2 linked regions of the Homo sapiens genome follow. Each later gene encodes a partner of the first gene's protein in a complex. Each region holds a gene or a part of one and is shown in the gene's direction. Other genes may lie near its edges.

Region 1 (3,746 bases):
CTAGCAAGGTAATGTACCAGGGTTCTAACTCTTCCACATCCTTGCCAACATTTCTCTCTCACACACACACACACACACAAATTTGTAGCCATCCTAGTAGGTGTGAAGTGGTGTTTCATTGTGGTATTGATTTGCAAATTTCCCTATTGACATTTTCCAATGGTGTTGAGTGACTTTTTTTTTTTTTTTTTTGACGACGTCTCGCTCTGTTGCCCAGGCTGGAGTGCAGTGGTGCGATCTCAGCTCACTGCAAACTCTGCCTCCCAGGTTCAAGCAATTCTCCTGTCTCAGCCTCCCAAGTAGTAGCTGGGACTGCAGATGCATGCCACCACGCCTGACTAATTTTTGCATTTTTAGAAAATATGGGGTTTCACCATATTCGTATTGGTTAGACTGGTCTCAAACTTCCGGCCTCAGGTGATCCACCCACCTCGGCCTCCCAAGGTGCTGGGATTACAGGTGTGAGTCACTCCCCAGCCTTGAGTATCTTTTATGTGCTTTTTGGCACTTTATGTATATTTTTTGGAGAAATGTCTATTTAAATCCTTTGCCCATGCTTTAATTGTTTGTCTTTTTGTTGTTGTAGTTAGGATATGCTCTGGATAACAACCCTTTATCAGATATAGAATTTGCAAATATTTTCTCCCATTCTGTAGACTGTCTTCACTTTTTTTTTTGAGACAGAGTCTTGTTCTGTCACCCAGGCTGGAGTGCAGTGGTGCGATCTAGGCTCACTGCAACCTCTGCCTCCCAGGTTCAAGCAATTCTCCTGCCTCAGCCTCCGAGTAGCTGGGATTAAAGCATGCGCCACCATGCCTGGCTAATTTTTGTATTTTTAGTAGAGATGGAATTTCACCACATTGGTCAGGCTGGTCTCAAACTCCTGACCTCATGATCCGCCCACCTCAGCCTCCCGAAGTGCTGGGATTACAGGCGTGAGCCACCACGCCTGGCCTGTCTTCATTTTATTAATACTGTCTTTTGATACACAAATGTTCATTCCGATGAAGCCCAATTTATCTAATTTTTCTTTGATTGCTGGTGATTTTGGTGTCATTATCTAAGAATCCATTGCCAAGTTTTACTTGGTTTTGATCTCTAGAAGACTGCCATCATACTGAAGGTAATCTTCTGAAACTTGCGGTTTTCTTTCAAAAATTATGTTTATAAGATGATCCATGTTCTTGCAGAGTTTATTCATTTTATGCTGTATAATATTCCATTATATCCACATACAATGCAGTATTGACCCTTCCTCCTGTTGATGGGCATTTGTCTTGTTTCTAGTTACTTTGCTATTATATCAGTGTCACCATGATTATCCAAAAGTAATTCTTTTGTACACTCTAATTTAAGAACAACTAACCCTTTTTAATGAATAAATCAACCTTGTATTGAGTTGCTACTAAGTTTCAGTTGACTAGTACCTGGGATACACACAGGTGCAGACATTTGACTGAGACATATTGATTTTTCTCATCTGCCTATTTAGGCTAATCACCAGACTATAAAACCATGAGAACCACTGCCATTGAGTATAGTCTGTGTCAGTCTACACTATAGCTTTAACTAGTTGTGTGATTTCTTGCAAAGAGCAATCAGAGAAGACACAATAAACACATTTACTGATTTCAGGCTGGAGAGCTTTTAAGCAATAGGGAGATGGCCACACACAAGGTGGAGAAAATTACTGTGAAAAGGAAGTACTTTCTTTAGAGCCCCACCTAAGCTAGGCTGCAGAAATGTCTACAATGGGTTTGAAAAAACTCAAAATGAGCCTTTCTGCAGTGTGAAAATCCTCCAAGATAAAGAGACAGATTGATGGTTCCTGCCGCCGCCCTGTCCTGCCCAGTTGCTGATTTCAGGAAATACTTTGGCAGGTTTGTGGGTCATAGAGTTGCCAGGTTTCTTGGGATTTGTAATAGAACATCACAAGAAAATCAAGTGTGAAGCAAGAGCTCAACTCTTAACAGGGGTATTGTTTGTGGTTTTGTTACTGGAAAAGATAGTGACCTTACCAGGGCCAAAGTTTGTAGACACAGGAATTACGAAATGGAGAAGGGGGAGAAGTGAGCTAGTGGCAGCATAAAAAGACCAGCAGATGCCCCACAGCACTGCTCTTCCAGAGGCAAGACCAACCAAGATGAGGTGGGTCCACAGCTTTCCCTCCTGCCTTTCCTCTGGTTCTTTATTTCAGTCTTTTTTGCATACATCGGTAGAGATGCAGAAATAGAACAAAGAAACGGGCAAATGGGCTAAATTATAGTGAACCAAAGGGCTTAGTGTGTTAAATCTTCTCCTTTTCTGCATCCATAGAAGACAGTGCTGCTGTCTTTCCCAGGAGATAAGATTTACTCTCAGGAGTGTCTTTTTCCTTCAGGTTACATTTTTGACTTTATAGGGTATGTCATCAGCTCCCGTGGTAGGCTTCCTGGCATCCTGAGTATATTTATTAGCAGATATTTTCCTCTTTAAAAATGTACAATAAGGAAGACTAATAGTAACACATTTGAATGACACAATTAATTGACTAGTACCTGGGATACACACTAATACCTGGGATACATCTAATTAAGGCACTTAGATCTTATAAAAATAAACACTTTTTGAAATGTTGAAATAATAAGACTAGAAACTTTTTTTTTTTTTGAGATGGAGTCTCGCTTTGTCACCAGGCTGCAGTGCAGTGGCATGATCTCGGCTCACTGCAACCTCCACCTCCCAGGTTCAAGTGATTCTCCTGCCTCAGCCTCCCAGGTAGCTGGGACTACAGGCGTGCGCCACTATGCCCACCTAATTTTTGTATTTTTAGTAGAGACGGGCTTTCACCATGTTGGCCAGGATGACCTCGATCTCTTGACCTCGTGATCTGCCTGCCTTGGCCTCCCAAAGTGCTGGGATTACAGGCATGAGCCACCGTGTCTGGCCTAGAAACTATTTTAATAGAAGCAAGTAGTGCCCGAATGGTTGGCATTTGTTAGTGAGATGGTGAACTGGCAGACGGCACCTGTGGGTCAATGCCCATGGCCACCGTCCTGCTTTTGGACACCAGTTCTCTTCCAGGTAACCTTCTGGCATTTTGGGGTTTCAGATACCATTTCCTAAAGGTGAATTATTATAAAATACTAGAAATACCCACGTGTTTAAAATTATATATTTAAGGAACCTTTTATTACGGAAAATATCAAGAAGTAGAGGAATAGCACAGTAAGCCCAAAGTTCCCATCTCTGAGTTATCTACATTTTATTACCACTATCTTTGCGGTGTCTGAGGGAGGTTTCTCTTTCCTGGAGGGCTCCTGTATTATTGCCAATGTACTTTCCTGAATGCAGCCAGAAACTGAGCCCACCCCTCCACCTATGTGCCTTTCTATCCCTCTCTGAAGCTTCTGCAGAATTCCCAGCAGGACAGGGCTTGCTGGAAGCTTGGTATGCTCAGAAGCTGCTAAAGTGTGTATGGGCAGGTGTGGGGGCAATTTCTTGGTCCTAGCACTTCCATATATCGACTTTCTTTTCTGGCTGCTAAGTGGGAGGAGTGTGTGTGTATGCATGTGTGTGTGTGTGTGTGTACATGCATGTGTGTGTGGATGCATGCATGTGCTGTGAAGCAGGGAGACTAGCTTTCCACTCCTCCTTGTCTTCTCTCTGCAGTGCCCTGGGAGCTGTCATTGCCCTCCTGCTCTGGGGACAGCTTTTTGCAGTGGACTCAGGCAATGATGTCACGGATATCGCAGGTCAGTCTTTGG
Region 2 (3,594 bases), about 72 Mb from region 1:
GAGGTGGAGGTTGAGGTGAGCTGAGATCACGCCATTGCACTCCAGCCTGGGCAACAAGAGCAAAACTCCGTCTCAAAAAATAAATAAATAAATAAATAAATAAACTAAAATCTATCCATGCTTTCACACACACACACACACACACACACACACACCCTTTTTTGTGTTACTTAAAGTAGGAGAGTGTCTCTCTTTCCTGTCTCCTCACACCCACCCCCAGAAGAGACCAAAATGAAGGGTTTGGAACTCAGCCCATGGGCCCCATCCCATGCTGAGGGAACACAGCTACATCTACAACTACTGCCACAGGCTCTCTTTTTGGACAAAAATACCATCATACTGTAGATACCTGTGTACAACTTCCTATTCTCAGTGAAGTGTCTCCCCTGCATCCCTTTCAGCCAGTTCATTCAGCTCTGCGCCATTCCACAGTCTCACTGATTATTACTATGTTTCCATCATGATCCCCCCAAAAAATCATGACTTTATTTTTTTATTTTTATTATTATTATTTTTTTTTTTTTTTTTGTGACGGAGTCTCGCTCTGTCACCCAGGCTGGAGTGCAGTGGCACAATCTCGGCTCACTGCAAGCTCCACCTCGCAGGTTCACGCCATTCTCCTCCCTCAGCCTCCCGAGTAGCTGAGTAGCTGGGACTACAGGCGCCCCCCACTACGCCTGGCTAATTTTTTCTATTTTTAATAGAGACAGAGTTTCACTGCATTAGCGAGGATGGTCTCGATCTCCTGACCTCGCATCTGCCCGCCTCAGCCTCCCAATGTGCTGGGATTACAGGCGTGAGCCACCGCGCCCGGCCTTATGTATTTATTTTTTTGAGACAGAGTCTCGCTGTGTCGTCAGGCTAGAGTGCTGTGGCACGATCTCGGCTCACTGCAACCTCCAACTCCCTGGTTCAAAGGATTCTCCAGCCTCCACCTCCCGAGTAGCTGGGATTACAGGCGTGCACCACCACACCCAGCTAATTTTTGTATTTTTAGTAGAGACGGGGTTTCTCCATGTTGGTCAGCCTGGTCTCGAACTCCCGACCTCAGCTGATCCACCCGCCTTGGCCTCCCAAAGTGCTGGGATTACAGGCGTGAGCCACCGAGCCTGGCCAAACCATCACTTTTCATGAGCAGGGATGCACCCACTGGCACTCCTGCACCTCCCACCCTCCCCCTCGCCAAGTCCACCCCTTCCTTCCTCACCCCACATCCCCTCACCTACATTCTGCAACCACAGGGGCCTTCTCTCCCCTGTCCTTTCCCTACCCAGAGCCAAGTTTGTTTATCTGTTTACAACCAGTATTTACCTAGCAAGTCTTCCATCAGATAGCATTTGGAGAGCTGGGGGTGTCACAGTGAACCACGACCTCTAGGCCAGTGGGAGAGTCAGTCACACAAACTGTGAGTCCATGACTTGGGGCTTAGCCAGCACCCACCACCCCACGCGCCACCCCACAACCCCGGGTAGAGGAGTCTGAATCTGGAGCCGCCCCCAGCCCAGCCCCGTGCTTTTTGCGTCCTGGTGTTTGTTCCTTCCCGGTGCCTGTCACTCAAGCACACTAGTGACTATCGCCAGAGGGAAAGGGAGCTGCAGGAAGCGAGGCTGGAGAGCAGGAGGGGCTCTGCGCAGAAATTCTTTTGAGTTCCTATGGGCCAGGGCGTCCGGGTGCGCGCATTCCTCTCCGCCCCAGGATTGGGCGAAGCCCTCCGGCTCGCACTCGCTCGCCCGTGTGTTCCCCGATCCCGCTGGAGTCGATGCGCGTCCAGCGCGTGCCAGGCCGGGGCGGGGGTGCGGGCTGACTTTCTCCCTCGCTAGGGACGCTCCGGCGCCCGAAAGGAAAGGGTGGCGCTGCGCTCCGGGGTGCACGAGCCGACAGCGCCCGACCCCAACGGGCCGGCCCCGCCAGCGCCGCTACCGCCCTGCCCCCGGGCGAGCGGGATGGGCGGGAGTGGAGTGGCGGGTGGAGGGTGGAGACGTCCTGGCCCCCGCCCCGCGTGCACCCCCAGGGGAGGCCGAGCCCGCCGCCCGGCCCCGCGCAGGCCCCGCCCGGGACTCCCCTGCGGTCCAGGCCGCGCCCCGGGCTCCGCGCCAGCCAATGAGCGCCGCCCGGCCGGGCGTGCCCCCGCGCCCCAAGCATAAACCCTGGCGCGCTCGCGGGCCGGCACTCTTCTGGTCCCCACAGACTCAGAGAGAACCCACCATGGTGCTGTCTCCTGCCGACAAGACCAACGTCAAGGCCGCCTGGGGTAAGGTCGGCGCGCACGCTGGCGAGTATGGTGCGGAGGCCCTGGAGAGGTGAGGCTCCCTCCCCTGCTCCGACCCGGGCTCCTCGCCCGCCCGGACCCACAGGCCACCCTCAACCGTCCTGGCCCCGGACCCAAACCCCACCCCTCACTCTGCTTCTCCCCGCAGGATGTTCCTGTCCTTCCCCACCACCAAGACCTACTTCCCGCACTTCGACCTGAGCCACGGCTCTGCCCAGGTTAAGGGCCACGGCAAGAAGGTGGCCGACGCGCTGACCAACGCCGTGGCGCACGTGGACGACATGCCCAACGCGCTGTCCGCCCTGAGCGACCTGCACGCGCACAAGCTTCGGGTGGACCCGGTCAACTTCAAGGTGAGCGGCGGGCCGGGAGCGATCTGGGTCGAGGGGCGAGATGGCGCCTTCCTCTCAGGGCAGAGGATCACGCGGGTTGCGGGAGGTGTAGCGCAGGCGGCGGCTGCGGGCCTGGGCCGCACTGACCCTCTTCTCTGCACAGCTCCTAAGCCACTGCCTGCTGGTGACCCTGGCCGCCCACCTCCCCGCCGAGTTCACCCCTGCGGTGCACGCCTCCCTGGACAAGTTCCTGGCTTCTGTGAGCACCGTGCTGACCTCCAAATACCGTTAAGCTGGAGCCTCGGTAGCCGTTCCTCCTGCCCGCTGGGCCTCCCAACGGGCCCTCCTCCCCTCCTTGCACCGGCCCTTCCTGGTCTTTGAATAAAGTCTGAGTGGGCAGCAGCCTGTGTGTGCCTGGGTTCTCTCTATCCCGGAATGTGCCAACAATGGAGGTGTTTACCTGTCTCAGACCAAGGACCTCTCTGCAGCTGCATGGGGCTGGGGAGGGAGAACTGCAGGGAGTATGGGAGGGGAAGCTGAGGTGGGCCTGCTCAAGAGAAGGTGCTGAACCATCCCCTGTCCTGAGAGGTGCCAGGCCTGCAGGCAGTGGCTCAGAAGCTGGGGAGGAGAGAGGCATCCAGGGTTCTACTCAGGGAGTCCCAGCATCGCCACCCTCCTTTGAAATCTCCCTGGTTGAACCCAGTTAACATACGCTCTCCATCAAAACAAAACGAAACAAAACAAACTAGCAAAATAGGCTGTCCCCAGTGCAAGTGCAGGTGCCAGAACATTTCTCTCATTCCCACCCCTTCCTGCCAGAGGGTAGGTGGCTGGAGTGAGGGTGCTGGCCCTACTCACACTTCCTGTGTCACGGTGACCCTCTGAGAGCAGCCCAGTCAGTGGGGAAGGAGGAAGGGGCTGGGATGCTCACAGCCGGCAGCCCACACCTGGGGAGACTCTTCAGCAGAGCACCTTGCGGCCTTACTCCTGCAC

Evidence for each region.
Region 2: the proteins of HP (region 1) and HBA2 are in contact, whole or in part, in a crystal structure (PDB 5HU6), measured with the Homo sapiens proteins. Residues at the interface, in NP_005134.1 of Homo sapiens: His183, Leu185, Lys202, Phe205, Leu206, Asn207, His208, Arg286, Ala288, Asn289, Phe290, Lys291, Ser326, Pro327, Val328, Gly329, Val330, Met343, Gln347, Tyr352, Lys379, Cys381, Ala382, Val383, Glu385; in NP_000508.1 of Homo sapiens: Val2 (codon at 2,209), Pro78 (codon at 2,554), Arg93 (codon at 2,599), Asp95 (codon at 2,605), Pro96 (codon at 2,608), Val97 (codon at 2,611), Lys100 (codon at 2,620), Lys128 (codon at 2,846), Ala131 (codon at 2,855), Ser132 (codon at 2,858), Ser134 (codon at 2,864), Thr135 (codon at 2,867), Val136 (codon at 2,870), Thr138 (codon at 2,876), Ser139 (codon at 2,879), Lys140 (codon at 2,882), Tyr141 (codon at 2,885), Arg142 (codon at 2,888).

What each region holds. Positions count from the first base shown.
Region 1 is NC_000016.10:72,052,510-72,056,255, forward strand, and holds the start of HP (haptoglobin isoform 1 preproprotein), read left to right. Parts: upstream 1-1,995; 5' UTR 1,996-2,143; coding exon 2,144-2,148; intron 2,149-3,651; coding exon 3,652-3,734; intron 3,735-3,746. UniProt on the Homo sapiens protein: As a result of hemolysis, hemoglobin is found to accumulate in the kidney and is secreted in the urine. Haptoglobin captures, and combines with free plasma hemoglobin to allow hepatic recycling of heme iron and to prevent kidney damage.
Region 2 is NC_000016.10:170,708-174,301, forward strand, and holds HBA2 (hemoglobin subunit alpha), read left to right. Parts: upstream 1-2,168; 5' UTR 2,169-2,205; coding exon 2,206-2,300; intron 2,301-2,417; coding exon 2,418-2,622; intron 2,623-2,764; coding exon 2,765-2,893; 3' UTR 2,894-3,003; downstream 3,004-3,594. UniProt on the Homo sapiens protein: Involved in oxygen transport from the lung to the various peripheral tissues.